4 linked regions of the Homo sapiens genome follow. The protein of the gene in region 1 interacts with the protein of each later gene in a pairwise test. Each region holds a gene or a part of one and is shown in the gene's direction. Other genes may lie near its edges.

Region 1 (8,279 bases):
TTTCACCATGTTGGCCAGGATGGTCTCCGTCTCCTGACCTCGTGATCTTCCTGCCTTGGCCTCCCAAAGTGTTGGGATTATGGGTGTGAGCCACCGCGCCCAGCTATCTCTCCCAGTTCTAAAGCTTTGTGGACAAGGATTTTTTTTTTTTTTTAATTTTCGAGACGGAGTCTTGCTCTGTCCCTTAGTCTAGAGTGCAGTGGCATGATCTTGGCTCACTGCAACCTCCACCTCCCAGGTTCAAATGAATCTCCTGCCTCAGCCTTCCGAATAGCTGGGATTACAAGTGCGCGTCACGTCTGGCTAATTTTTGTATTTTAAGAAAAGACAGGGTTTCATCATGTTGGCCAGGCTGGTCTCGAACTCCCCGACCTCAGGTGATCCGCCCAACTCGGCCTCCCAAAGTGCTGGGATTACAGGCATGGCCCGCCACACTTGGACTGTGATCAAAGATTTTTTTTGCCTGTTTGTTCATATTATTTATTTATTTTTTGGAGATGGAGTCTCAATCTGTCGCCCAGGCTGGAGTGCAATGGCGCAATCTCAGCTCACTGCAACTTCCACCCCACTGGGTTCAAGTGATTCTCCTGCCTCAGCCTCCCAAGTAGCTGGGGTTACAGGCGCCTGCCACCACGCCCAGCTAATTTTTTGTATTTTTAGCAGAGATAGGGTTTCACCATGTTGGCCAGGCTGGTCTCGAACTCCTGACCTCAGGTGATCCACCCACCTCGCCTCCCAGAGTGCTGGGACTATAGGCGTAAGCCACCGCTCCAGAGATTGCAATGAGCTGTGATCGTGCCACTTCACTCCAGCCTGGGGGAAAGAGTGAAACTCCATCCCCACCCCCACCCCCCAAAAATAAATAAATAAAATAATAAAATAATTGATATATGATACTGAAAAACTGGAAACAACTTCAATGTCTTGAAGAGGGGATTGGTTTTTAAAAATGATATTGGGGACGGGCTTGGTGGCTCAAGCCTGTAATCCCAGCACTTTGGAAGGCCGAGGTGGGTGGATCACCTAAGGTCAGGAGTTCAAGACCAGCCTGGCCAACATGGTAAAACCCCGTCTCTACTAAAAATACAAAAATTAGCCCGGCGTGGTCGTGGGCGACTGTAATCCCAGCTACTCGGGAGGCTGAGGCAGAAGAATCGCTTGAACGTGGGAGGCGGAGGTTGCAGTGAGCCAAGATCACGCCACTGCACGTCAGCCTGGGTGACAGAGCAAGATTCGGTCTCAGGAAAAAAAAAAAAAGATATTAACCGGGTGCGGTGGTTCAGGCCTGTAATCCCAGCACTTTGGGAGGTGTGTCGGGCAGACTGCTTGAGCACAGGAGTTCAAGACCATCCTGGCCAACGTGGCAAAACTACATCTTTACTAAAAATACAAAAATTAGCCAGGCATGGTGGCGGATGCCTGTAGTCCCAGCTACTCAGGAGGCTGAGGCATGAGAATCGTTTGAACCTGGGAGGCAGAGGCTGCAGTGAGCCGAGATCGCCCCGTTGCACTCCACCCTGGCCAACAAGAGCGAAATTCCATCTCAAAAAAAAAAAAAAAAGTATAAAGCAGTGTTAGCTAAAACGAGAGAGCTCTATAAAATTTTATTTTATTTTATTTTATTTTTGAGACAGTTTTGTTTACTTAAGTCAAGAGGCCAGACGTGGGTCAGCCTGTAATCCCAGCACTTTGGGAGGCCCAGGCCGGTGGATTGCTTGAGCACAGGAATTTGAGACCAGCCTGGGCAAGACGGTGAAACCCCATCTCCACAAAAATTAGAAAACTTAGTGAGTCTGGTGGCACACGCCTGTAGTCCCAGCTACTCAGGAGGCTGAGGTGGGAGGATCTCTTGAGCCCAGGAGATCGAGGTTGCAGTGAGCCTTGATGGTGCTACTGCACTCCAGACTGGGCGACAGAGTGAGATCCTGTCTCAAATAATAGTAATAATAATAACATAAATTACATGTCAACCAGACCCGACAGACTCCAGGCCTCTCTGAGTAAGTGCTACATAAAACATACAACAAACAAAAGACAGGGCCTGGCGCAGTGGCTCACGCCTGTAATCCCAGCACTTTGGGAGGCTGAGGCAGGAGGATCACGAGGTCAGGAGATCGAGACCATCCTGGCTAACACGGTGAAACCCCGTCTCTACTAAAAATACAAAAAAAATTTAGCCGGGCGCGGTGGCGGGCGCCTGTAGTCCCAGCTCCTCGGGAGGCTGAGTGAGGTAGGAGAATGACCTGAACCCGGCGAGGCGGAGCTTTCAGTGAGAGCCGAGATTGCGCCGCTCCATTCCAGCCTGGGCGACAGAACAATACTCTGTCTCAAAAAAAAAAGAAGAAAAGAAAGAAAAGACAGGGCTGGCATGGTGCCTCCCAGCATTTTGGGAGGCCAAGGAGGGAGGAATGCTTGAGCCCAGGAGTTCAAAACTAGCCTGGGCAACATGGTAAGACGCTGTCTCTACAAAATATAAAAATAAAATTAGCCAATGTGGTGGTGCACACCTGTGGTCTCAGCTACTCCAGAGGCTGAGGTGGGAGGATTGCTTGCGACTGGGTGGTTGAAGCTGTAATCATCCGGGATTATGCCAATGCACTACAGCCTGGGCAACAGAACAAGACCTCATCTCAAAAGAAAGAGAGAGAAAAAAAGGACAGTCTATCTGCTTGTCCTGGAAAAATAAAAATTTCCCCTGATAAATAAAAGTTAATGGTTAATATTTTATTAATTTATTAATAGGTAGTAAACAAGGAAAATATATTGAAGAGTAAGAATTAAACTCTGCCATCAAAAAATCTTACCATCCAGGAAGGGAGAGGAGTGTAAAACTACCCACAGTGCTACGAGATAATTTTAAATAAATTGCAATGTGGCAATTGAGTCGAGGCTTTAAGCACTCGTAGGATATTCTCCCTCTGATTACTTGCTCAAAGTAGATGATTTGGAAAATATAGAAAAGTACAATAAGATTTTAAGGCTGGGCGCGGTGGGTCACGCCTGTAATCCCAGCACTTAGGAAGGCTGAGGCGGGCGGATCACGAGGTCAAGAGATGGAGACCATCCTGGCCAACATGGTGAAACCCCGTCTCTACTAAAAATACAAAAATTAGCTGGGCGTGGTGGCACGCACCTGTAGTTCCAGCTACTCGGGAGGCTGAGGCAGGAGAATCGCTTGAACCTAGGAGGCGGAGGTTGCAGTGAGCCAAGATGGCGCCACTACACTCCAGGCTGGTGACAAAGCGAGACTCCGTTTGAAAAAAAAAAAGTTAAAAAAAAAAATCACATGTAATTTTCCCACCAGGAGAGAACCACTACTAACACTTTAGTGTATACTTTCTCCCATATTTTTCGTCTTTGCTTTTTAAAATAGTTTAAAGTGGTCTGGCGTGGTGGCTCACGCCTATAATCTTATCACTTTGGGAGGCAGAGGCGGGCGGATCACCTGAACAGTCTGGCCAACATGGCGAAACCCCATCTGTACTAAAAATACAAAAATTAGCTGGACATGGTGGCGCGCACCTGTAGTTCCAGCTACTCAGGAGGCTGAGGCAGGAAAATCGCTTGAACCCGGGAGGCGGAGGTTGCAGTGAGCCAAGATCGCGCCACTGCACTCCAGCCTGGGCGACAGTGACTCTGCCTCAAAAAAAAAAAAAAAAAAAAAAAAAAAAGAAAAGAAAAAAGAAACCGCTGGCTTAGTAGAGCTGATGCTACCCCACTGCGTGCGCAGTTCCTATAATGTAACCAGAGAGACTGGCAGGTGACGGGGGTAGGTAGGAGACAAGCCATTTCAAGAGGAGGGAAATTAAGGGACCAGATTTGGAAGGATGGGCCAATTTTGCTGGCACTTAAGATATTAGATGCCCTGGGGCCAGAGGCCAGGATTCTGCACTTCCTTTTTATATTGGAGAGGAATAAGGAAGTCAGTTGGTTTCGATGGAACATGTGTTGTCTGAAGAAGGGTTTAATAGGCCAAGAAGCAGATGTCTACGAGGTAGCTGACATTCGAATCTGGAACTGAGAAAGGGTCTGGGGTTGGAAAAACTGCAGGACTGGTTAGTTTTCTACACACTTTAACAAGGCCTAGTCACTGCTGCTCCCTCCTCATTTTAAGAAAAGTCCTTTCTTTATTCACATTGCACAACGGAGGCTTCATTTCGCGCTTTTTTTTCCCTAGGCCCGGGGCTGGGGCAGGTCTTTTGCGCCCGTCACCTAACTACGCCCCTCAACCCTTTCCCCGCCCCCGCGCAGCCGGAAATCCGAGGTCTGGGCGGATCTTCTACTAGGCACTCTAAGGGGCAGCGATAGGACGCCGCGGCCGCCAATCAGGCCTCCCAGATACCCGGATGTGAGACGGTGCGCGATACAAAGGCGAGTTTCCACCCAGAGGGTCGTCCCGTGCAATAGCCAATAAGCATTCTCCAGGCAATAAATGACAGGAAAACTAACCAGTTATAAACTAGTTTCTCTCACGCATGTGGAAATTCGCCTGCTTAGTCTAACCCACTGCTAATTGTGATTGGATATCATTGTGAGGAGCGGTTGAACTGTCTAATTAGGAGCGGGAGCGAAAAAACGCACAGCCAATAGGAAGATTCTCAGGAATGGGGCGGGGACTAGGCCTTCGCCTCGGCGGCAGAGGAGACTCGGGGGCCATTTTGTGAAGAGACGAAGACTGAGCGGTTGTGGCCGCGTTGCCGACCTCCAGCAGCAGTCGGCTTCTCTACGCAGAACCCGGGAGTAGGAGACTCAGAATCGAATCTCTTCTCCCTCCCCTTCTTGGTAAGTGGAGAGGGCGGACGCAGGGAAGGCGCTGGGTTTTTCGGGAAGCGAGAGGGGGTGTGGGAGAGAAGATGTGGGAATCCTTCCCCCTAACTAACCGGGCCCTCATTTATTCTGCTTGTTTTGGGGGATTAGGTTGAAGCCGGGGGCAGTTTTATAGGCCTCAGCCTCTGTATAGGTTTAACCTGGTGTCCTCTAGGCCACGATCGCCAGGGAAAATGTCCTTTTTTCGCTCTTCCTGTGTTAACGGCTGCTTTCCTTTCATTTTCTACGACCGCGAGGACTACGGGATCATGAAAATGAAGATCGTGATGCTCATTAATATAGTCGAAGTTAACGTAGCGCCGATGCCTTCTATTACCTCCGTTCTTCTTACATGTAAAAAGTGGGGGAGGGGAAGGGGGAAGGTTACCAAGTAGATGTATCGCGAGCCTTTAAATCCTGGATCGTGCCGCGTGGCCTACGAGAAAGGTTTAACAAAAGATTCAGCATTTTACTGATAACTTTTTATTTTATTTCTCTCTATGAGCAAATGATGGAGCTCGAAGTAGTTATTTTCACTTACATTTGTAAAAGGAAATATTGTGATATAACTATATTAATATTTACAGCTGACTTTTCATCTGCAGGTTACAAAACACTTGAAATATATAAGTTAGTGGAACTTTGCTTGAGGTAGGTATTAACTCTCTTTCTCAGACGGAAACTGAGGCAGAAAAGTGTTGGTTGCTAGGGTCATATTAAGTCAGTAGCAGCACTAGTAAGGAATTTGACCACGAGGTCAGTCGAGTGGTTTTTACCTAGTTAATGGAATACCTAGTTAATATAGTTCTAAAACTACTGTATTGCAATCTTTGCCAAGAACCTGATGACGGAAACCACGAGGTAACTGGAAATTCCCAAATTGCGCTTAAGAAAAATACTACGAGACTTGAGAATTTTTTAACGTAACTTCCTAAGTGTAAGATGACAAAATTTGACTTTCGGGATATTCTGGCGTTAATTTTCCCGTCCGCCTAAATGTGGGCAAAAATTCACAGCTACGTTATATTAAGCAAATATTAACAGTGCCTATTATTTGCTGGGTGCTGAAATTTGATAAAAAACTTAAAAGTTAAAAAAAATTGTTTAGATCTTTAGTGTCACATTGACTTATCTGGGACATCGCTTTTTTTAATCCTCACATGAGATTTGGCTAAGTTTATTTTTCACAATCTGTTAATCTCACAAAAACTAAAGCTGTTAAGCACAGTTTAAACCCATTCTGCAGGGTAAGAAATTCATCTGTAAGGCAATCTATTTGATAGGAAGTAAAATAAGGGTCAAAAACATCGCGACCCCTTTCTTAAGGCTTAAACATGTATATTATTACAGGAACTTAAAACTAAAGTTTATCATTGTGCTGAACTGTTAGAAATGAGGTTAGGGTAAAAATGGGAAATCATGAAGTAAAAATGTTGGCAAGGAGAAATGTCAGAAATTAGTATTTAAGAACTGTTAATAGTAGTTGAAATTGATTGACGGGCACTTTTCTTTGAGGTTTTCGAAAATGGGTTCCTTCCGGTCAGTATGTATATCAGCGCACCAAAAATTCTTTGAGTTAATATCCGAAACTGTTTGCCACGGTATTTATATCACAATTCTAGGTGTGTTCTCAACTAGATAGGCGTTTAGTAACATTTTCATATTGGCTAGGGGGAAAAGTTGAAGAAGGATGGCCAGGTTGCAGGTTTTCTGACCTTTTTTTTCCCCCTCATGCTAGTGCCACTCTCGGGAATACTTGGTGGTTGATGTTCCTTCTGTAGAGAATTTAAACAGCTTACGTTTGTAATTAAATCTCTAGAGGATTTGACATGGCATTCGACCTTGTTTTGGATGGAATGGCTGTGCGAAACAAGCAAAGAATAAACTCCAAAATAGCTAGTTGCTCTAATTTTAAAGACTAAGGGGCAAATTATTAAATCTTAATAAAGTGTTGAATGTGAGAGGTGTTGGCTGGGGAGTAAGTTTGCCTAGGAGTTAGGAGAAATAGATTTTAATCCTCCTTAGGCAAATAAGGGGACTTAGACTTTTTTTTAAAACCTATTTGAATTTTTAGTTTCTAATTCAAATTTTTTGTTGCCAGAAGCCTAAAAACTGTACAGATTGAGTTTTATTAAAAGCAGTTTTGTTTTTTTTTTTTTTTTTTTTTTTTTTTTTTTTGAGACGGAGTCTCGCTCTGTCGCCCTAGGCTGGAGTGCATGTCGTGGCACAATCTCGGTTCACTGCAACCTCCGCCTCCCGGGTTCAAGCGATTCTCCTGCCTCGGCTTCCCGAGTAGCTGGGATTACAGGCGTGTGCCACCGCACCGGGCTAATTTTTATATTTTTAGTAGAGACGGGGTTTCACCGTGTTGGCCAGGCTGGTCTCGAACTCCTGAGCTCAGGGAGTCCTCCTGCCTTGGCCTCCCAAGGTGCTGGTATTACAGGCGTGAGCCACCGCACCCGGCCCCGGTTTTCTAAATTGGTAGTTATTATTACTATTCTTAACCACATTATTTCAGTCTTCAAGTACTTTATTAGTAGTTGTCTCTGGGGAGCATTATTTGCTCTTAATATGCATATTCATGTATTCTCATTGGAAATGGGAAGGTTTTGGTTTTGTGCATACTAGATTTACTAGAGGATTGGTGAGAACCAGAACTTTGAGGTGTAGCATAACTACAGGTATTCTCGATATTGGAAATTTTGAGTTTATTAACATAAAAGGAAAAAAGGTTTCTTTGGTACATTTACTATCATAGGTTATGTGTTTTTGGATTTATTTATATTGTATCAGGAAAACATTATTTGGTGCTCTAACTTGATTCTGTCACAGTACACTGGAAGGTCAGGCATTTTGTTTAAAGAATTGATTCTAAGGCCGGGTGTGGCTGCTCATGCCTGTAATCCCAGCACTTTGGGAGGCTGAGGCGGGTGGATCACGAGGTCAGGAGTTTGAGACCAGCCTGGCCAACATGGTGAAACCCCCATCTCTACTGAAAATAAAATTAGCTTGGCGTGCTGGCGCTCGCCTGTAGTCCCAGCTACTCGGGAGGCTGAGGCAGGAGAATCGCTTGAACCTGGGAGGTGGAGGTTGCAGTGAGCCATCGCACCACTGCACTCCAGCCTGGGCGACAGAGTGAGACCCCATCTCAAAAAAATGATAATAATTGATTCTAAACTGGGGAATAGAGAGATTCCCAATTTAAAATCTTCACAGTGGTTCTCAAACGTTAGCCAACACCAGAATCAATAGGGCTAGTTAAAACAGATTGCTATGATCTCTACCACAAGGGTTTCTAATTAAGTAAGTCTGGGGTGGGCCCTGAGAGTTTGCACTTCTAGTAAGTTCCAGGTGATGATGCTCATGCATCACTCATTCTGAGAGGTGCCCCTTTAGAAGAAGGGATCCAAACCTCAGGCAGGTTTTGACAAAGAATAACCTAGAGATACTTTTTTTCTAAAACTATCTCTGAG
Region 2 (6,388 bases), on another chromosome or scaffold:
TTTTCTTCTTGTTCTTTGTGGGCATTTGAATTTGTGACCCTTGAGTTAGGTAGTAAATGTCAGTGCGTGGTAAAGCTTATTTTTGTAAATAGTTGTGAAGACCTTAGATGGAATGGGTGTTCTAATTTGAAGAATTCCTTAAAAGGATTAGAATAAATAGGGAGAAACAGGAGACTAGAACTTCAGTGCCAAATACATGTTTTCTTTGTGTGTTTTCCCCCCTCTAAACTTGTGTTTCTTTTAAGGTCAATAAAATGCATGTTAGCATATTAAAATTTGTTTTTTAATACCAGGTGGAATCCATAGAGCTCCCCATGGACAACAAGACCAATAAGAGGCGTGGGTTCTGCTTTATTACCTTTAAGGAAGAAGAACCAGTGAAGAAGATAATGGAAAAGAAATACCACAATGTTGGTCTTAGTAAAGTAAGTTAAGCATCCATTTACTTGTAGAGAAAACTAGCTGTTGTAAAGAGCTTAACCATTTATCTTTCTCTGTAAAGGCTTAAGTTCTTTGCATGCTTTAAAAACTTCTCATTGGTTACTTACCATTGACCAACTTTTTGTGGGGAGCAGGATGGACACATTTGTTAGTGTTTTTGTCTAGGCTTTCACAAAAATAGTTTTTAGAACTTGACAAGTAAAATGAAGTAACATCACTAGCAAGTACTCATAAGTGATTACTCTTAAGTACTAAATATTGGTTTAATTAATAAACTGACTGAGGAAAGTTTCAAATTAGCCTACTCTATTTAAACATGTTGGCTATTCTGGTTATTAGAAACTTATTTAGCAACTTTTATTTTCTTGAGTCAGTTTAATAATGTAATTTTTCTCTTTTAGTGTGAAATAAAAGTAGCCATGTCGAAGGAACAATATCAGCAACAGCAACAGTGGGGATCTAGAGGAGGATTTGCAGGAAGAGCTCGTGGAAGAGGTGGTGGTAAGCTAGAGCCTAAGTTTACTCTATCTTAAGCTTTTCTGCTTTTTAATTATCCTGAAGTAAAGATCTTTGCTGATCTTCTGACTTTAGTGAACCTATTAATGTGCTGCAGGCCCCAGTCAAAACTGGAACCAGGGATATAGTAACTATTGGAATCAAGGCTATGGCAACTATGGATATAACAGCCAAGGTTACGGTGGTTATGGAGGATATGACTACACTGGTTACAACAACTACTATGGATATGGTGATTATAGCAGTAAGTACTATACTTTTTATATTAACTGCTATTTGACATTTATTTTGTACAAATTTGGATAGGCAGAAAGGTTAGTGTAGCCTTGCCAAGTGCAAATGTCTTCAGGTTTCAAATTCCTGGAAACTTGAAACTGCAGCCATTTTATTGCTTGGTTCCTCCCAGCCTATATCACACACACATTATAAGGGTAGGGTGTATGTGTGGTTCTATATATGTTTGCTGGGCATTTGTTTTACTTGGATTTAAAAATTTTAAGCTCAGTTCAGATCTTTTAAGCTCAAGGTATTCTAAATGTCACTTCTTGGACCAACCAATAATCTTGGCATGATGTGTCTTAATCCTATAAAACTGAATAATACCACATGTTGCCAGTTAAAACTAATAGTATCCTCGCTTTAGGATTATTAATGTAGAAACTCTTAAAACAGATGTTGAGCTTGATAGAACCAAAAAACTTGACTTTTAGACATGGAAAGCCCTGACTTCATTGTGCAACTAAGGTAGTTGCTCTCCACCTGATTTGTAGCAACTGTTGAGTCGTCAGGTAAAGGGTTCTACTAGAAGCAATCTTACATTTTTTTGGAGGAGAGTGGTTGCATTGGTTGCATTGTTTTAAGTGGTTTTTCTTTTCCTTCCTTGGTTAGACCAGTTCTTGGAGTTATATCCTTTCTTAGGTGACTAGGCCTGCTGCACAATAATAGGTTAATTAAAGTCAGAAGAAGGTCAGCAAAGATGGATTGGGTGAGATTGGGGCCCTTTTCTTAGAAGGGCAGAGATACTAAGCACTGATTGTGGTTGACAATTTGTTCTAAATTTTAAGATATTTTTTGCTGGTGGTTGTGAAAGGGTCAGCTGTCCATCCTTTGAAACTTAAAACTTTTAAACTGTAAGGGTGAGGGGATTGTCTCCCATTTTATACAATAAGTCAAGTAATCAGCTCATTCTGAATGCCTGCCATTGTATGCATTCACTACATATTTGGTAAATTATTTGATAAATGATTGCTCAGGGTGAATTTTTCACACTTGGGAATTAAGCTACCCTTAATTTTTTGAGATTGTTTAAAATTAGGTACTGTTCTGATTATTAGTATGTAACCACTACCGTTCTGGTTCTAACACTTGTTTTATTTTAGACCAGCAGAGTGGTTATGGGAAGGTATCCAGGCGAGGTGGTCATCAAAATAGCTACAAACCATACTAAATTATTCCATTTGCAACTTATCCCCAACAGGTATGTTCTAAAAATAGTTTTTTTTTGTCATTTACAATAGTAGTTTTTATAATCTATATTGTTCATAAAACAATGCTTAATTTAAGAGTTTCACAGCACCCAGAAGTGCTTACCATATTATAACATAGTGACTTTCAAAGATATGTAACACAGGTGCTCTTAAGCTTTTGCCTTTTTGTCCTATTATTAACAAGTCAGTAAAGTTAACAGGTAAAGTACTGCTAATGGGTACAAATTAAGGAATTGCAGCAAAAAAGTATTGCCTACTAACTCTGACATTATACCTTGTTTGTACCCGCCAGCGGGAACTTCATTGCAGGCCCTGTGTCGCGCTGACTTCACGATTCTCACAGGCCCGCTCAATGCGGACAGGGTACGAGATGCTCACGCTCTCGAATGCTGCCGTTTGGTATGGTCTCTTCCAACATCCTGTATCAGCATTATAAAATAAAATGGATACTTCAAGCTTTGCCTTCACTTATTTCTTTGCTTTTTAAAAACTATTTGTAATGTAATTTTAATGCATTTTTTACAGGCCCAGTAATGGTTAAATACGTCAGCTTACTGAATAATTTTAACTATTTATTCTTCTAAGGATACAGCTTGTCTCTGGATTTTCCAGTCTTAATTTTATATTTTATTAATCTATTTTAATGCTTGCTTTTCCCATTTATAGACGTTGTAGCAGTAATTGCAAGAAGTTCTTGAGCTGAATTCCTGTTGTGACAACTTCCTATAATTACAGTAGATAACTTTTTCTTTTAGTCGTATATAACTTTTCTATAACTTGTGATGGACAAGAGATATGCTTATCCAATAAAATAAGCTTAAATATTAGATGCTCTTGGGTCAAAATGTCCTTTTACCAAATTGACCTTTTTATGAGTTCTTTGGGTAAATACTTTAAAGCTTTTTATATTTTAAAGAATACTTGTAAAAGCATATCACATCTTAAACCAGTGGTGCACATGTGGATTTACAGCTCATGGACTCTACTGTTCAGCTTTAATTTATAAAACATATCACACATTTAATGTTATACAGTATTTACATATAGTGGAACATAGGGATAACTCAGTTTTATGTAAATTTTTGTTAAGTGTTGTAGCCTGCCCAGAGTGACTTCTATTTTTTCTTCTTTGTCTCCAGGTGGTGAAGCAGTATTTTCCAATTTGAAGATTCATTTGAAGGTGGCTCCTGCCACCTGCTAATAGCAGTTCAAACTAAATTTTTTGTATCAAGTCCCTGAATGGAAGTATGACGTTGGGTCCCTCTGAAGTTTAATTCTGAGTTCTCATTAAAAGAAATTTGCTTTCATTGTTTTATTTCTTAATTGCTATGCTTCAGAATCAATTTGTGTTTTATGCCCTTTCCCCCAGTATTGTAGAGCAAGTCTTGTGTTAAAAGCCCAGTGTGACAGTGTCATGATGTAGTAGTGTCTTACTGGTTTTTTAATAAATCCTTTTGTATAAAAATGTATTGGCTCTTTTATCATCAGAATAGGAAAAATTGTCATGGATTCAAGTTATTAAAAGCATAAGTTTGGAAGACAGGCTTGCCGAAATTGAGGACATGATTAAAATTGCAGTGAAGTTTGAAATGTTTTTAGCAAAATCTAATTTTTGCCATAATGTGTCCTCCCTGTCCAAATTGGGAATGACTTAATGTCAATTTGTTTGTTGGTTGTTTTAATAATACTTCCTTATGTAGCCATTAAGATTTATATGAATATTTTCCCAAATGCCCAGTTTTTGCTTAATATGTATTGTGCTTTTTAGAACAAATCTGGATAAATGTGCAAAAGTACCCCTTTGCACAGATAGTTAATGTTTTATGCTTCCATTAAATAAAAAGGACTTAAAATCTGTTAATTATAATAGAAATGCGGCTAGTTCAGAGAGATTTTTAGAGCTGTGGTGGACTTCATAGATGAATTCAAGTGTTGAGGGAGGATTAAAGAAATATATACCGTGTTTATGTGTGTGTGCTTATTTGTTTGAATGATTTTATTTTCCATTTCTCAAAGGTTTTATTTTTTTGGTTAGGGCCTTAAAATTTCAGGACTGTGATTATTAGTATGTGTGCCTAAGGAACTTTTTGAGTCACTCTTAAGAAAGTGAAACTGAAGAGTCTAAGTGATAACTATAGGATTAAGTCAGAATTGTTTTTCCTGTCATTTGTTGGAAGCTTCTTGAGTTCTGTTATTAGCATTCAGGGAATTGATACCCATCAACTTGAATGGAAAATCGTTTGTAGGTATTACTTAAGTGAATGTTAAGAGTTCCACCCTGAGTGGTAATCTAAGGCTGTGCAGTCAGTTACTTCAGACTGCTCAGAATAGTTCATTAGAAAGGTAACAAATGAGAAATGTATTATTATACAGTTCTATAGTAGTGAAGTGATGGAATACCTTTCTTACTTTTGTGGAGTTACATCTGATGCTAAGAATTTGACCTCCAACTAAGCAAACATTTTAATGAGCAAAAGTTAGTGTTATTAAAGTTTTTTTATGATAGATCCAAATTGAGGACCTGTGTCCTGTTTTTATAAGATTGCAACCCAGCTATGCTCATTTGTTTATGTTTTGTATATGGCTGCTTTTGTGTTACAGTGGTAGAGTTTAGTAGTTAGGACAGAGACCTGCAAAGCAAAATAATTTACAGTCTGGCCCTTTACAGAAAAGTTTGCTGACTCATGGTCAAAATAAATGAAAATTTTTTGTGTTAGGGTTGTTAAGCTAGGGTTCTTTTTGGTATCATATGCTTATTTTATGTAAATCTCTCAATAAAAAATTATTTTTAAGAGACAGGGTCTCCCTCTGTCGTTCATGCTAGAGTACAGTGGCTCACTGCAGCCTCCAACTCCTGGGCTCAAGTGCTCCTCATTAGCCTCCTCAGTGATTGGGACTACAGGCGCATACCACTGTGCCCAACTAATATTTTTATTGTTTGTAGAGACAGGGTCTTGCTATGTTCCCCAGGCTGGTCTTGAACTCTTGGCCTCAAGCAATCCTCCTCCTCCTTCGGCCTCCCAAAGTGCTGGGATTATAGGCATAAACCACCGTGTTCGGCCTTCACATCAAAAACTTTATAAATGTGCGGGGAGGGGGTAAAAACAGATTGAATTAAAACCAGGTTTAGTGTGACTAAAAACATGCTACCAGATTAATTTTGATTGTTGTGTTAAAATGTTTACAAGCTGCACTTTTGGCAGTTAATTAGTACTAAATGAGAGACACTACTTAGATTTAATTTTAAGGATTAATTTTGGAGATCAAACCCATTCTTGAAAAAAACTTGTAACCCGATTTTTGTACTGTTTTGTTTCTGTATGTCTGACTCATTTAAATTGCAATTCTCAGAGCCGTTTCTAGCAGTACCTCTTGGCCTAGATAATTTTCTGTCCAGCAGACACTGATTTTCAAACGGTAACAAGAATTGAAAAAAGATTTTTTATATACATTAATTTGGTAATTAGTTTCATGTTTTTCTTGATGGTTTTCTGTGTTCTAATCTGAACTGTTTGCCCTTTTTGAATTGTTGAGTAACTGTTGAGTTGGGGCTTTGCCATTGTTCTGGGTTTCCCTTTGCCTCTCAATTTATGATCTGTTTCCTAGATCTATGGCTTTGTTGGTTTGGTGTAGGATATCTTCCAATAGGTTAGAGACCTTCCTGTCTGTAAAGTTCTATTTTGCATTGGATTACTAAGTTTAGCTATGTAGAGAATTCAGGTTTGGTGAAGAAATTTATTTTATTTGTTTTTGAGACAGCATCTCACTCTGTTGCCAGGCTGGAGTGCAGTGGTGCGATCTCAGCTCACTGCAACCTCTGCCTCGTGGGTTCAAGCGATTCTCCTGCCTCAGCCTCCTTAGCAGCTGGGACTACAGGCCTGTGCCACCATGCCCAGCTAGTTTTTGTATTTTTAGTAGAGACGGAGTTTCACCATGTTGGCCAG
Region 3 (8,248 bases), on another chromosome or scaffold:
AAAAAAACATGTAATACTGAAATTAACTATTAAAAGTTTTTAAGTGACTAGAGCTCAGTAACCTATAATTTATTGAGCTAAATTTTCTGTTGTACTGATTGCACACGACCATCGTGGCGGGTACACATTACACGAAGAAATATTTTTGAAATGAATATTAGCAACGATTAGTCTTATGAGCAGACTAAATGCCAAAATTGACATGGACTCTTTTTTTTCTACTCAAACTTTTCCAAGCAGCAGCTTCTTATCCAGTAAGTTTTTGTAACCACGCAGAATTATAGAATGTGAAAATAATCCAGAACTCATATAATCTTGTGAATTATTTCTGTAGATACACAACTTTTAAGTATAATCTTTAGTAATCTCTAATTTTTCAGTTCAGTATTATTACTCTTATACTGTAGATAAGAGTAATACTAAAGACATTTTTTCCCATTGCTTTTGGAGATTCAACTCTTGTAAAGTAGCCTGTGTACAAGTTCTACATTCAGTAATGAAAATATAGTTTATCAGAAGAAACACTGACTCTAGTCTTGTTCCTGCCTAATTAACTGGACAAATAATTTCATCTTGGGCATTATCTTTGTCCATAAATGAAAGAGTTGGATCATATTAGGGTTTCCCAAACTGTTTTGTGAGAAGGAACTGGTTTTCATTTCTCTGAAGTTTTGAGATTCCTTTATGTCTTTTCACTGTGAGTAGAGTGCTTACTCTATATTTCCTAAGTAAAATAAAGAAAAAGGAGACTACAATACTGCTTATACTATCTTACTGTTACATTATCTTCAGTGGGAGTTCTAGTGTTTTTCCTAGTACATAGAAGATGCCAGAGGATAGCAACTGGCTTCTAGATTGATCTAGTAATGTTATTAAGACTTACAGGGTGATCTCAGTATACTGTCTGGAATTGTACATTGGACTAAATCATAAATCATCTCTAAGATTCTTCCTGACCATTTCTAACATGTAAAGAAATGACATTGTTGAACAATTTTTTTTTGTTTGTTTTTTGAGACAGGGTCTTGCTCTGTCACCTAAGCTAGAGTGCAGTGCCGTGATCTTGGCTCACTGCAACCCCTGCCTGCTGGGCTGAAGTGATTCTCCTACCTCAGCCTCCCAAGTAGTTGGGACTACAGGTGCACACCACCACACCTAGCTAATTTTTGAGTTTTTTGTAGAGATGGGGTTTTGCCATGTTACCCAGGCTGGTCTTGAACTCCTGGGCTCAAAGGACCCACCCGCCTTGGCCTCCCAAAGTGCCAGGATCACAGGCGTGATCCACCGTGCCCAGTCACGTTGACAAATCTTAATTAAAAGGTCAGAAATACAGAAATAAGCTATTTTTACCAGTAATGTTAAAGCATCATTTATGTTAGGCACTGGAGTCTTCAGCCCCTCGTAACCATTGTTAACCAGCTGACATATTAGCTGAAGAATTCTTAAATTTAAAGTGTTGACACTATCCCAGTACATACCCATTTTTTAATCCTTTGAAAAGATGCTATATTTGTTCTCTATAACAGCATTTATGCTATTTCATTTGGGAAATTTGAAAGACTTGCACAGTTGTTTACTCTTAATATAAGATGGTGAGTAGATTCAAGAGAAGATTTTTGGTTTTAACATCTTCTTCCATATCTTGGAATCATAACTGCTTCATAATGTAGTCTTCAGAAGCGTGCCACAAACAAAGCACCTAAAAAGGACAAACTCAGAAAATGTGTCTCTGTTAAGAAGGAGCTTCTGGATTAATTAAACTAACCTTGTTAAATTGACAGAAAGACAAATGAGGCATATTTTTCGGTTTGTCATAAATTCTTCTAGGGGTAAAATTGTGAAATTAGGTAAGATCTCTGTGCCCATGTATAACATCTAGAGATCTCCAAGGCTTTGTATACACTGTCTGATGTCCTTTTAAGCTGGGGAGAAGAATGTTGTGGGAAACAGAATAACTATTATTACACAGTTAACAAGTTTGGCAGAATTAGAAATGGCCTGGTTTTCTTTTTAGTGTAATTTTCTGAATGTTTGTCTGTTTGTACCTATCACTTGCGCTGGTTACAGTTATACACAGGTATGTAGAGTACTTCTTATGACCTTGCTTTCCAGTTGCAATTCCACAGCTATGTGAATATGTATCTTAGCTATTCGTTCTCCACTCATCCCACCTAGTGGATTTGCAATGTAGTGTGTATCATTTCAGTATCAATAGGCTATATGTTTTATTAGAAGTTGTACACAAGTTTGGTGTGATGGTTGGTGTAATATTTGTTCCATCCTTTGCCACCGTCCCAGGGGATAAGCACACTAGCAACCTTGGTGTATTTTTCCATTTCCTTGTCAATATGTCAATTGGGACAGATTGGTTGAGCCACAAAATTCAGCTCTACCACCATATAGGATTTACCTGGTGCAGGCAATGATGTGACCCCCCGTTTTGTTTATACTTATATTCAGTTCACGTTCTGTGCCAAAGCTACAAAGTGGTACATGCTATGCCTGCAGTCATTCACCTTTATGATTCAAGAGCACAGTTATTTGCATGTGACAGGTCTTAGGTAGCTCACCATGACATTTTCAATCTGATAGAAGTTCTCAGGACAGGAAATTCTACAATGTTTTTCAGTAGCTGCTTTTTGGTCCTTTGCTCTAACTTGAGCATGGAAATACAAAGCAGTTTGGATAAGTCTAAATCTACTGATTAACATTTGACTATTTACTCATAGATTACCACTCAATCATGGAATAACTTTAAAACCATACCTTTGTATGTGCTTGACAGTCACCCTATACTTAGGAGGTATCCTCATTTTACAGATGAGAAAACTGGCCTAGACCAGTTAAGAAACTTACTGAAACCCACATGGTCTAGTAACTTACCAGAGCAAAAATTCAAGTCCAGATTGCCTCTAAAACCCTGTCGTGCTATACTGTCAACTGAGAAGTGAGATTCAAATCCAAGTAGTGTGCCCCGCCCCCCACCATTACCTACAATCTTTTCTTCTTTGGCTTCTTGAGATGTAAGAGGGTTTCTCTTTAATTAAAAAAGTATTGACTAGGTAATGTAGTCATGGGTTCAAAATTCAAAGGGCACAAAAAGATACGTGAAGAATTTTTTCTGCCCTTGTCCCTCAGCCATCCAGTTCCCCTACCTGGAGGCATTCACTCATCATTTGTCTGTAAGTTCTCCCAAACATATTTTGTGCATATACAAGCAAACACACATATATATGTTTTTAAGTGACTAGAGCTCCCCTTTTTATGCAAATAGAAGCATAGTATACATATCGTTCTGCACCTTGCTATTGCACTAACTATATTTTGGAGATTGTTTAGTAGCAGTTCATAGAGAACTTTGTCATCTTGGTAACTGCTGCATAGTTTTTCATTGAATGATACATTTTCATAGTATGTTCTTGGATATTTTCATTTCTGTTTTCATAAACAATGTTGCAAGGAATGATAGTAGGTTAGAGGATATATAGTATTGAGGATTCTATTCATAACTGAATTGCTGCTTTAAAGGGAATGTACATTTATGATTTTAGTAGTATCCTCATTTGCCCCCAATAGATGTTGTACCAATTTATATTCCTACCACTAGTGTATTGAGAGCGCCCGTTTCCCCACAATCTCAATAAAACAAGTGTGTTATCAAACTTTTGGATCTTTCCCAATCTGTTAGGTGAAAAATGGTAGTTTAATGTACTTTTAAAAATAAACTTTAAGTTCTAGAACAGTTTTAGATACAGAAAGGTTGCATAGTACAAAGTTCCACATACGTACAACTCAGTTTCCCTTGCATAACTCTGATACATTTGTCACAGCTAACGAACCTTGTTATTAGCTAAAGAGCATAGTTTGTTCACATTTCCTTAGTTTTTACCTCATGTCTTTTTTTCTTTTCCAGGATCCCATCCAAGATACTGCATTACTTTAGTCATCATGACTCCTTTGGTTCCTTTTGGCTGTGACAGATTCTTGTGTTTTTGATGACCTTGCTAGTTTTAAGGAGTACTGGTAGTCAGTGTACTTTAAAATTTGTGAGATTGGACATCTTTTCATACACTTAAAGACATTTGCATTTCCATTTCTGGAAACTAAGAGCCTATGCTTTTAACCACTATACTATACCTCTTTCTTGATTCACCATAATTATCAATAAAACATATGTGGGCCTGAACATACACAGACTTCTGATTCTGAGTGGAGAAAACTCTCAAGTCTCTGTTACAGATAGAGGAGAACCATTAGTACAGGTGATATAGTCAGACTCGTGTCTGATGACTCTGGCTACATCGTGAAGGATGAAGCAGAGGCTCGACTGGAAACGGTAGGTAGGCTGGATAAATCCTTGAAAGAAAAGCAGTGTTGATAAGTTCAAAGGAAATTACAGAAGAGCCAGGAATTAGTGGTAATGGATGAGAGAATCAAGAAGTCAAAGGTGACTCGTTTTATGAGCTGGATATTTTGGGTCTTCTTTTGAACCTAAATGAGAAATTCAAAATAAATATTTGGACAATGTTCAGCATACCTGTCACTTGAGATCTACTTTCTCTTTCTGTTGCCATAGCTCTGTGCTACTACAATTCCCAGAGCCCCATGCTCCATCACAATACCCTTAGAAGTCCGCCGCGCGGAGTTCTGGGACTTGAGGTCCGCGGCCTATTTACCCAAGTTGGAGGTAGGGGCCTGTGGAAACATGAAGAGGTAAGGACTTGTCTGAAGAGCAGGCGGCAAGGGGAGCTTTGTTCTACCTTTTCTTTTGAAAATGGCTTCCATTGCTTTCTGGTTTGGGTATTGCACGTTCTCAGGATGCGGTTTCGTGGGAGCGGGAACACGACAAAGGAGACGGGAGGAGGGGAGACGGGCTGAACAGGCCTGCAGAGCGAAGTTCAGGAAGGGCTGCCACCGGGGCCGGCTGCTGTGGGAATGCCCTCCCGGCACGGGCCCCGGGAGCTGGCCGGGTGCTGCGGCTTCGTCGTTTCACCCGGACCCAGCTGGGCAAAAGGGTTTGAGGCTGACAAATTCCCGGCGCCGGAGATGTAGGTACCTCGGGCCAGCCCCTCGCCGTTCTCCCCTACCTCCACCTCCACCTGAGAAAGGCTCGGGGCGGGCGCATTTATTTGCAACGTCTGTGTGTTAAAGACTACTTGCTTGGGCCCCGAAACCATGTAGCGCTTTCGAATCTTAAAGTAAGGGAGCGGTACTTTGTTTCTAAATGTGGAAGGACAGCACCAAAGCGGTTCGATTTATGGGGTGGGGGGAGGGGAGGTGGAAGGCATTGCTGGGCTCAGTTCCCCTTACTTGTCCTGAGGTAAATGGCCGCTTGAGCCTAAATGGCCTGAGCCTCCTAACTATTGACGGGCTTAAATTAATTTTAGATTCACTCTGCAAGTAGAATCATCACTCTGGAATAGTGCAGTGCATTTAAAATTCTTACTGATATGCTTTCCTGCACTGTCAGTTCCTTGCATCTTTTAAAAAACCGTTTATGACTTTGCCTGCCTGAAACTAACCTTTAATATTTTTTTATGATATCTCCTCCATGCGAAATAATGTATAATGTATATATACAGCTTAAAGAATAATAAAGGTTCGCATCCACTACAAGCTTAAGAAATAGGACATTGCCAGTCCCTTAGAAGTCTACTGTGTCTCTTCCCTCCCTTCGTTCCCCCCTGAGGTGACCACTATCCGGAATTTTGTGTTATTAATTCCCTTGCTTTTAAAAAAGCAAATAGTTTCTAGTACATATGAATTTATCCCTAAACAAAATGTTCCTAGTCATGTATTTGAAGTATTCCTGATACTTCATGCTGGCGTTTCTATTGTAAAAGCTACTAGACTCAATGTGGCTAAAACAATACTGACTTTCCCTTTCCCAAATCATTTATTCCATCTGGAGCTTTGTCTTTCCTTCATTGGTACCATTGTTCTCTCAGTTACACAGACTGAAATTTTGGGATTATCTTTGACTTCCTTGCCTCTGCCTCCAAAAGGCCTCTCTCATCTAACCCTTTCTTTCCATTTTCACTATTACCATTTCAGTCTAGACCTTCATCACCTTTTACTTCAGTAGTTTCATAACTAGTTCTTCTTGTTTCTTCCCTTTGAATCTCTATGGCATATTATAACCACATTCATCTGTCTAAACCATCACTTGCACTGTGTCACTTAACTGTTTGATAAATTACTACTTCTTATTATCCTTCAGTATATATTACTATCCCTTTGTACTCTCTTTCCCTGTTCTCCTTTTCTGCATCACACACCTTTGAATGTCAGCTTAAAAGTACCTTTCTGAAGTCTTCCTTTACCACCTTTATCTCCCAATTTTCTCTTCTGTGAATTTCTACTAATTTGGCATATGCTTCTATGTGTTATTATTCTCTCCTCCCCCCGCTGCCAAGGCACATGCACACAACACATAAACACACACTTCTTCTCCCTAAATAGATTGTGGGCTTCTTGAGGATAGGGACTATGTCTTAAACACCTTTGACTTCCCTCAGTACCTAGCATAGTGCCTTCTGTGTAAACAGGTATTTAGTAAGTGTTCATGGACTAAATGGTAAAGGGCAATGAATTGTTGGAGAAGTGTCTTTGAATAAATGGGGTCAGTAATGGTAGATAATATAGATAAGGAATATATTTTGAGACTCACAGTCTCTTCCGTTTTCTGTATATATTCTTATGTCTACTCCAGGGTAAACAGCTGTGTGAAGAGTGATGAGCATGTCCTGGAGGAGCTGGAAACAGAAGGGGAGAGGCAGCTGAAAAGCCTCCTTCAGCATCAACTTGATACTTCTGTCTCCATTGAGGAGTAGGTATTGATTTTGCAAACGGAGAGTATCATAGACTCTTACCTCCAGGTGACAGATCTCTCTTAAAGCCTAGATGGAATGTTCCTCTCCCACCTCCCTTTCTTTGTTAGACTTCAATGTATTAGGTAGGGTTTTAATTCTGTGTCTCTTCCTCTGGGAAGCCTCCCATATCTCACTAAGTCTGAGCCAAGTACCTATTTTATGTCCTCCTACAGCATCCCATATTTCCCTTAACATAGCACTTGTAACCCAATATTATCATTGCCTGTTTACTTGCCTCTGTTCCACTGTTTTTCCACAAAAGCAGGAGCCATTTTTATCTTTTTTATAAAGCTATTAAATCCTTAGTACCTAGCAGAGTATCTGATGCATAGTAAGTACTCAATAAATATTTGTTGATTTAGTTTATTATTCCTGGATGACGGCACTCTCGATGGAGTTCCATTTTGTTGCAGTGGTGCTTCAGCTTAGAAATAAGATGTAAGAGAAAATTTGCTGGTGAGTTTCATTGTACCTCTTACAGTGCTGAACCTCCATTTTTGTGAATGATAGTAACCTCAAGATGTTCTTACTCTCCTCCTGCATGTTTTGCAGATGTATGTCTAAGAAAGAGAGCTTTGCTCCTGGTACTATGTACAAGCCCTTTGGGAAGGAAGCAGCTGGGACTATGACTTTGTCCCAATTCCAGACACTGCATGAGAAGGACCAGGAAACTGCTTCTCTCAGGGAATTAGGGCTTAATGAAACAGAAATCTTGATCTGGAAGAGCCATGTTTCTGGTGAAAAGGTGAGTGGGGTAATGTTTTTTTTTGTTGGTTTTTCTCCTCAAAGAAACAGAGCAAAATATCTTCATTTTAGCACTGAGAGCCTTTTCATTTCTAGTTCTCACAAAACTGAGCTTGGTGTCTGAATCTTCTTTGATTTTTAGAATGCAGACATTGGTAAAAGAGAAGCTGTTCTTTAACTTCTTAGCTAACACTTTCTGTAAACATTCATTTCTGGGCCTAGGTCATCTTTTTACTTGAGATACCAGATCATCATGTTCAGGTTGTGCCCTCTATGATACATGCCATCTCATTCCTCTGGTTTCAGAAGACAAAACTGAGGGCAACTCCTGAAGCAATACAGAACCGTCTTCAAGATATTGAAGAAAGGATCTCGGAGCGTCAGCGCATTCTTTGCCTGCCACAGAGATTTGCAAAGAGCAAACAGCTGACCCGGCGAGAAATGGAAATAGAAAAGTCTTTATTTCAGGGAGCTGATCGTCACTCCTTCCTTAAGGCTCTTTATTACCAAGGTATGTGATCCCCACTGACTTTGATATATTCTTTCACTGAGAGAAAGATTAAACAGCAGGGCATTAAATATGAAGAGTTAGTGAAGGGAATAGGGGAAAGACAAATTGTCACTACTTTTGA
Region 4 (7,000 bases), on another chromosome or scaffold:
GAGTGACAGAGTGAGACTCTGTCTCAAAAGAAAAAAAAAAGACTAGATATATTGAGTTAAAATACATTAAGCTTCTTAAAGAAATCTTTTCAGTCTGTCTACTGGAAGACTGAAAATTGGAATTACATATATGCCTCTAATGGACAAGCACTATTTAGACAATGCTCTTTGTAAATTTGCCTGCAGGACAGGGACCATTGTTCTAGAAGCTTTAAAAATTGCCAGAGGTCTTTAAATTGAAGTGCTAAGGGACCTTCTCCCTCATGTCCCCAGGTTTATAACCACAATTGCTAGTGTTCACTGACCTGCATAGGCTACTCAGGTGTTTGTCTCTCTTTTTTGGTTTAGTGTTACTCATGTATTTTACTTCAATAGGATGTAGAGTCCTACATTCATCGATCCGGGCGGACAGGCAGAGCTGGAAGGACGGGGGTGTGCATCTGCTTTTATCAGCACAAGGAAGAATATCAGTTAGTACAAGTGGAGCAAAAAGCGGTAAAACTATTCTTACCTTTCATTAAGCAAATGTTGAGTTCTAAAGTCAGTCTTTGGTTTCTTCAATTTTTATCCACTTTAAAATATTTTTATTTCTAGTGTGTGGCAATGACTGAAAGCTTATTGTTAGGTACATATGTTGTCCTGTGATAAAAGGCCCATTCTGAAGTAACTTTGCATTTGAAAACAGTGATTTTGTTTTCATATGTTTGAAAGGAAGTTTTCAGACAATGATAAATATGAACCAGAGATAATTAAGATTGAGGGGCTGTAGGAATTGCTTGAAAATCAAATGAATGAGGGTATGTCAAAAGGATAAAGGGGAGAAGAGACTAATTTTTCCTCCAGGAGAATTGGAATAGTGTATGTAGATTCTTGCCCCTTCAGGAGCTTCACTCGTCTCCTTCCTCTTGAGTGGACTGCACTTAGGGACTTGCTTTCAAAGAATAGAGTAAGGTGGGGAGTGAGGACTTTACCGAGGAGAGATGAACAAACACTACCTGGGCCAGTTGATCGTGGGTCACATCATTAGTGATAGGCACATAGCCATGTGCCCCTGATAAGAGGTGGTAAGGCGAGCATTCACTTCGGGTATTCCTCCCCCAAATATGTAACCCTGAGCATGAGGAAAACACAAGACAACCTCAAACTGAGGGACATTCTACAAAACTGTTGACCAGCACTCCTTAAAACTGTCAAAGTCATGAAAAACAAGGAAAGAAGGAAAGACAGACATGGAATAAAGTCTGGGGTTTGATTAATAGTTTAGCCATGTTGGTTTCTTAGTTGAAACAAATATACATTAACAGTGTAAGATGTTAATAATAGCAGAAACCTGGAGCTCTCTGTACTGTCTTTGTAGCTTTTCTGTAAGTCTAAAATTAAAAGTTCATTTTTTAATGTAATACATACATTTGGCCTATATTAAAAAATTAGGGGACTGCTTATCTTATTGGAAACAATTGATGGCCACTGTACATTAAACTGTGGTTCATTTTCCTGTAGGGAATTAAGTTCAAACGAATAGGTGTTCCTTCTGCAACAGAAATAATAAAAGCTTCCAGCAAAGATGCCATCAGGTATGTTCCCTACCACTGCTATGGTCTGTTTTAGTGTTGGTTCAAATACTGCATGTCTTTGTACAGTAATAAGATTTGACTTAAAAAAATTTTTTTTTTAAAATTTTTGAGACAGGGTCTCACTATGTTGCCCAGGCTGGTCTCAACTCCTGGTCTCAAGCAGTCCTCCCAGCTCAGCCTCCCAAAGTGCTAAGATTACAGGTGTGAGCCAGCATGCACAGCCTATTCTTTTTAACTGATAACCTGTTTATCAAAAAAAAACCAGACCGTGCTGAAGTAGAATTTCACAAAGTGGATACCCTCGTTTCTACTCATTCCTGTCCTATCCTGTTTACCAGAGGAAACCACTATTAAAATAGTTTGCTTTGTCTAGGATATTTTAAGGGATAATATCTTAGGTATAGTATAGGTGCTTCTCACCCACTGGCTGATTAGACCACAGATTACATTCCAAATCTACATTAATCCAGTTCCTTCCCTGGTAGGATGAAAGTTGATTGCTTCGTTAATAGTAAATGTCTAGATGGTGAGGATTAGGTTAATTAACAGTTTGTCAAATGGAGGTGCTGCTGGCATTGGAGGCAAGAGAATTATTTTTTATGGGATTGTCCTGCAAATGGAAGGATATTTAGCTGCTTAGGATCCGTGGCTGATTCCCCTGTGCCACATACTCAGGGTAAGTAGGGTTGGCATTATAAAAACCAGAAACCATTTTCCAGATGCCTCCTGATGGTGACCTATGTTCTCTGTTAAAGAACCACTGAGTTTGGGCATCATTTTTATAGTAGTTTTCACAATTACTGTAAATGCTTATTTAAAAAACAGACACAGGGAGTCCATGATCAAAGGAAATCCTGGATGTCAATCAGCATATTAATAGTTCAGGAAAGTTTTGTTAATGAAAGAGTTTTGGGCCAGGCATGGTGGCTCATGCCTGTAATCCCAGCACTTTGGGAGGCTGGGGTAGGCGGATTGCCTGGGCAACACGGTGAAACTCCATCTCTATAAAAAATACAAAAATTAGGCCGGGTGCGGTGGCTCACACCTGTAATCCCAGCACTTTGGGAGGCCAAGGCGGGTGGATTACCTGAGGTCAGGAGTTCAAGACCAGCTGGCTAACATGGAAAAAACCCATTTCTACTAAAAATACAAAAAAATAGCCAGGCGTGGTTGCGCACGCCTATAATCCCAGGTACTTGGGAGGCTGAGGCAGGAGAATCACTTGAACCCGAGAGGTGGAGGTTGCAGTGGGCCGAGATCACACCATTGCACCCCAGCTAGGACAACAAGAGCAAAACTCTGTCTCAAAAAAAAAAAAAAAATACAAAAATACAAAAATTAGATGTGGTAGCAAGTGCCTGTAGTCCCAGCTACTCTGGAGGCTGAGATGGGAGGATTGCATGAGCCCAGGAGGTTGAGGCTGCAGTGAGCTGTGGTTGTGCTAATGTACTCCACCCTGGGTGGCAGAGTGAGACTATCTCAAAAAAAAGAAAGAGGGAAGGAAGGAAGAAAGAAGACAGGGAAGGGAGGAAAGGAAGGATGAGTGTATTTTTTTTTTTTTTGAGACAGAGTCTTGCTCTGTTGCCCAGGCTGGAGTGGAGTGGTGCAATCTCATCTCACTGCAAGCTCTGCCTCCCTGGTTCACGCCATTCTCCTGCCTCAGCCTTCCGAGTAGCTGGGACTACAGGCACCTGCCACCACGCCCAGCTAATTTTTTGTATTTTTAGTAGAGACGGGGTTTCACCGTGTTAGCCAGGATGGTCTCAATCTCCTGACCTCATGATCCGCCCGCCTTGGCCTCCCAAAGTGCTGGGATTATAGGCGTGAGCCACCACACCCAGCCTGGAAGAGTGTATTTTAACTGCATTTTTCAAATTTATTTTAGCATGGCATGTTTTTTTAAGTGTCCTACAGACAGGGTTCCCTTGGGTGCCAGTTAAGGAGAGTTGGGGTTAGATGGCCAAGAAGGGGAATGGGACAAAGATGCTGGTGGTATACAACAAACAGCCTCCAGCGTGCCAGCCCTGACACGGCTGCATGTCACTTTCTCCCCTTTTTACTGGATGATCTTTTTCAACTTTGAATGGGACATTTATTATTGCCAAGATAATAGTGACCCCCTTAAGAATGTACAAATAGTCCCATAAAGGTCCTTATCATTTTTTAAACTGACTTTGGAGGTCTTTTTCTTATTTCTTTTATTTTCTTTTTTTTTTAAAGAGACGGAGTTTCTTAAAATGATTGTGTGTGGCACAGTCATAGCTCACTGCAATCCTCCCACCTCAGCCTCCCAAGTAGCTGGGACTACAGGCATGTGCCACCACACCCAGCTTTTTTTTTTAAACTTCAGAATGGAAATAGGTTTTTTCTGATCCTAAAAGTAACACATGCTTCTTGTATAAAAACTCTTGACATAATTCATCATCACATCTAATGGTAGTATGACATTTTATTATGTCTGTTTTGTGGCTTATATAAGCAGCCCAAATGATGCACATTTTAAAATTGTTTGTACTTTTTGTGTATTATAAGTAACACCGTGGTGAACTTCTTGTTTTATTATTTCCTTAGGATAAAATGGTGGGGTAGGTGATAAATTAGAATTACATACAGTCAAAGGAATGGATTTATTACTATAGAAATATGATTATTATATACTGCATCAAAAATAAATATGTTACACATGTGAAAGATTTGGAAAGTTACTCATTTATCTTGAGATGTCTTAGAAATGAAATGTGTCCACTTCTAGTATCCTTTCTCCTAACACACTCTCAAACAACAGGCTTTTGGATTCCGTGCCTCCCACTGCCATTAGTCACTTCAAACAATCAGCTGAGAAGCTGATAGAGGAGAAGGGAGCTGTGGAAGCTCTGGCAGCAGCACTGGCCCATATTTCAGGTGCCACGTCCGTAGACCAGCGCTCCTTGATCAACTCAAATGTGGTAAGGTTCTGCAGCACATTCCTGACACTTCATAATTTGGGGTATGAGCAGGATATGAAAGGGTTTCATTTAAGCTTCCCAGTTGTTTTCATTTTCTCATGAAGTTAGTAAAGTATTAATTGTATTTTACAATTTCTGGCCAGACACAGTGGCTCATGCCTGTAATCCCAGCCCTTTGGGAGGCACAGGCAGGAGGATGGCTTGAGCCTACAAGTTTGAGATCAGCCTGGGCAACCTAGTGATACTCTGTCTCTACAAAAAAATAAAAAAAAAAAAAATTAGCTGGGCGTGGTGACATGCTGTGGTCCCAGCTACCTGGGAGGCTGGGATGGGAGGAGGGAGGATTACCTGAGCTCAGGAGGTTGAGGCTGCAGAGATCCATGATGGTGCCACTGCACTCCAGCCTGGGTGACAGAGTGAGACTCTGTCTCAGAAAAGAAAAGAACCAATAATTCCCATGTTTAAACACACACACACATACATGCAAATCCATAGAGGCAGAAAATATGAGTGGTCCTGACTGGCTGTGTGGAGGGAGGAATGGCAGTGGCTAGTAATGGATGCAGGATTCTTTTGGGTGGATTATGCCATGTTCTGAAATTTTAGATAGTGCTGAATGGTTGCAGATCTTACAAATATACTAAAACAAACAAAAAAAACACTGGATTATATACTTTCAAATGGTGAATTTTGTGGTATGTGATTTTTAATTGTTTTAATCCTAAAGTAGCCCAAACATATATATGCGCATAAATGCATATAATACATTTAGCCAGCATACCTAGAAACTTTAGAAGGTGTATGCTTTTCTTTTCCTGTAAATTCAAATTTTTATTGAGATAATTGTAGATTTACATGTAGCTGTAAGAAATAATACAGAGAGATCCTTTGTATACTCTGCTCAGCTTCCCTAAATGGCAATATTTTGGAAAACTATAATACCACAACCAAGATATTGACATTGGTACAATCAACCAGTCTTACTCAGAGTTCCCCAAGTAAAACGAGGGACTGTTCGTACTAATTGTTTGTGTGAGATGTATGTTTTTAGGAATAACTTTTCAAGAAATATTTTAGAATCACAAAAGCAGGTATTTATCAATTAGGTTTATTTTCAGCACTTTAATTTTATTCTCCTTTCTTGTGTTGTAAGGGTTTTGTGACCATGATCTTGCAGTGCTCAATTGAAATGCCAAATATTAGTTATGCTTGGAAAGAACTTAAAGAGCAGCTGGGCGAGGAGATTGATTCCAAAGTGAAGGGAATGGTTTTTCTCAAAGGAAAGCTGGTAAGGCTGGGGTCTCTGTTGTAACCTTGATGGGGCTTTATGTGGGCAGGAAAACAGTGTGGTGTGGGTTCTTCCTGTTCTGTGGGGATGCTGCATCTCTTCACTCTCTCATCTTCCCTGGGTAATCTCATCCGTGATCCTCAGATGCCACTCTGCCACTGACAACTACTGTACCTCTATCTCCAGCCTGAACCGTTCTCACAATGCCAGACTTGATCCAGCTGCTTCCCTGACATCTCTACCTAAATAGCTTATTTAAAGTAACTTTTTCAGAATCTTTTTTTTTCTTAGCAATGCTATTCTAGCACTGGACTTATTCAGAATCTTGAATTCAAATTAAAAATGAAAAAATTTGCCTCCCAAACCTGGTGTTCTTTCTTCTGAGGCCTTCTCTTTGTTTATGCCATAGACTATCACAAGGATTCTCAAACATTTTGGTTTCACAATCCCTTTAGCAAATGTTAGGGACCCCCAAAAGCTTTTGTTTACATGGGTTATATCTATTGATACTTACTGTATTAGAAATTAAAACTGGAACTCTAAAACACAATATCATGTTCCATTAGTCATCAGAGCAATGATTTTATCACGTCATATATGTCTAGGAAACTCCACTGTACCCTTGAGGGAATGAGTGTGGAAAGGGCAACATTATTATGAAAATAATTTTGACTTGGCGAAGCCCCTAAAAGATCTCAGGTTTCCAGGTTTCCATTGGCCTAGTGAACTAATCGGATTTATCTTCAACTTATTGCATGTCTAGCCATGTTGTTATCTCCTTAAGCAACTCCACAAAACTTGTGGGATAAAGTCTCAACCCTTTCATAGGAGGATAAGATCCTTCATGTCCTGGCCTCTGCTAACCTTACAGCTTAATTTCTACCTCATTGCTACCAACACCATTTACTCCAGCAGTGCCCAGTACACCATGCTTTATCTCATCCTCAGTGCATGCTGAACCTACTATTTATAGTAATCTTTCGGCTGGGCCCCGTGGCTCATGCCTGTAATCTCAGCACTTTGGGAGGCTGAGGTGGACGGATCACCTGAGGTCGGGAGTTTGAGACCAGCCTGACCAACATGGAGAAAACCTGTCTGTACTAAAAATACAAAATTAGCCGAGGATAATGGCGCATGCCTGTAATCCCAGCTACTCAGGAGGCTGAGGCAGGAGAATCACTTGAACCCGGGTG

Evidence for each region.
Region 2: the proteins of HNRNPC (region 1) and HNRNPD interact in binary tests that used the Homo sapiens proteins (3 or more experiments, as listed by UniProt).
Region 3: the proteins of HNRNPC (region 1) and RBM41 interact in binary tests that used the Homo sapiens proteins (3 or more experiments, as listed by UniProt).
Region 4: the proteins of HNRNPC (region 1) and DDX21 interact in binary tests that used the Homo sapiens proteins (3 or more experiments, as listed by UniProt).

Annotation. Positions count from the first base shown.
Region 1 is NC_000014.9:21,265,801-21,274,079, reverse strand, and holds the start of HNRNPC (heterogeneous nuclear ribonucleoproteins C1/C2), read left to right. Parts: upstream 1-4,637; 5' UTR 4,638-4,782; intron 4,783-5,411; exon of another isoform or gene 5,412-7,687; intron 7,688-8,279. UniProt on the Homo sapiens protein: Binds pre-mRNA and nucleates the assembly of 40S hnRNP particles. Interacts with poly-U tracts in the 3'-UTR or 5'-UTR of mRNA and modulates the stability and the level of translation of bound mRNA molecules. Single HNRNPC tetramers bind 230-240 nucleotides.
Region 2 is NC_000004.12:82,351,350-82,357,737, reverse strand, and holds the end of HNRNPD (heterogeneous nuclear ribonucleoprotein D0), read left to right. Parts: intron 1-293; coding exon 294-425; intron 426-842; coding exon 843-942; intron 943-1,054; coding exon 1,055-1,201; intron 1,202-2,336; coding exon 2,337-2,404; 3' UTR 2,405-2,434; intron 2,435-3,583; 3' UTR 3,584-5,240; downstream 5,241-6,388. UniProt on the Homo sapiens protein: Binds with high affinity to RNA molecules that contain AU-rich elements (AREs) found within the 3'-UTR of many proto-oncogenes and cytokine mRNAs.
Region 3 is NC_000023.11:107,115,231-107,123,478, reverse strand, and holds the start of RBM41 (RNA-binding protein 41), read left to right. Parts: upstream 1-4,656; 5' UTR 4,657-4,705; coding exon 4,706-4,713; intron 4,714-4,893; exon of another isoform or gene 4,894-4,935; coding exon of another isoform or gene 4,936-5,048; intron 5,049-6,712; coding exon 6,713-6,829; intron 6,830-7,234; exon of another isoform or gene 7,235-7,328; intron 7,329-7,424; coding exon 7,425-7,617; intron 7,618-7,922; coding exon 7,923-8,127; intron 8,128-8,248. UniProt on the Homo sapiens protein: May bind RNA.
Region 4 is NC_000010.11:68,973,170-68,980,169, forward strand, and holds part of DDX21 (nucleolar RNA helicase 2), read left to right. Parts: intron 1-375; coding exon 376-495; intron 496-1,500; coding exon 1,501-1,574; intron 1,575-4,359; coding exon 4,360-4,519; intron 4,520-5,672; coding exon 5,673-5,807; intron 5,808-7,000.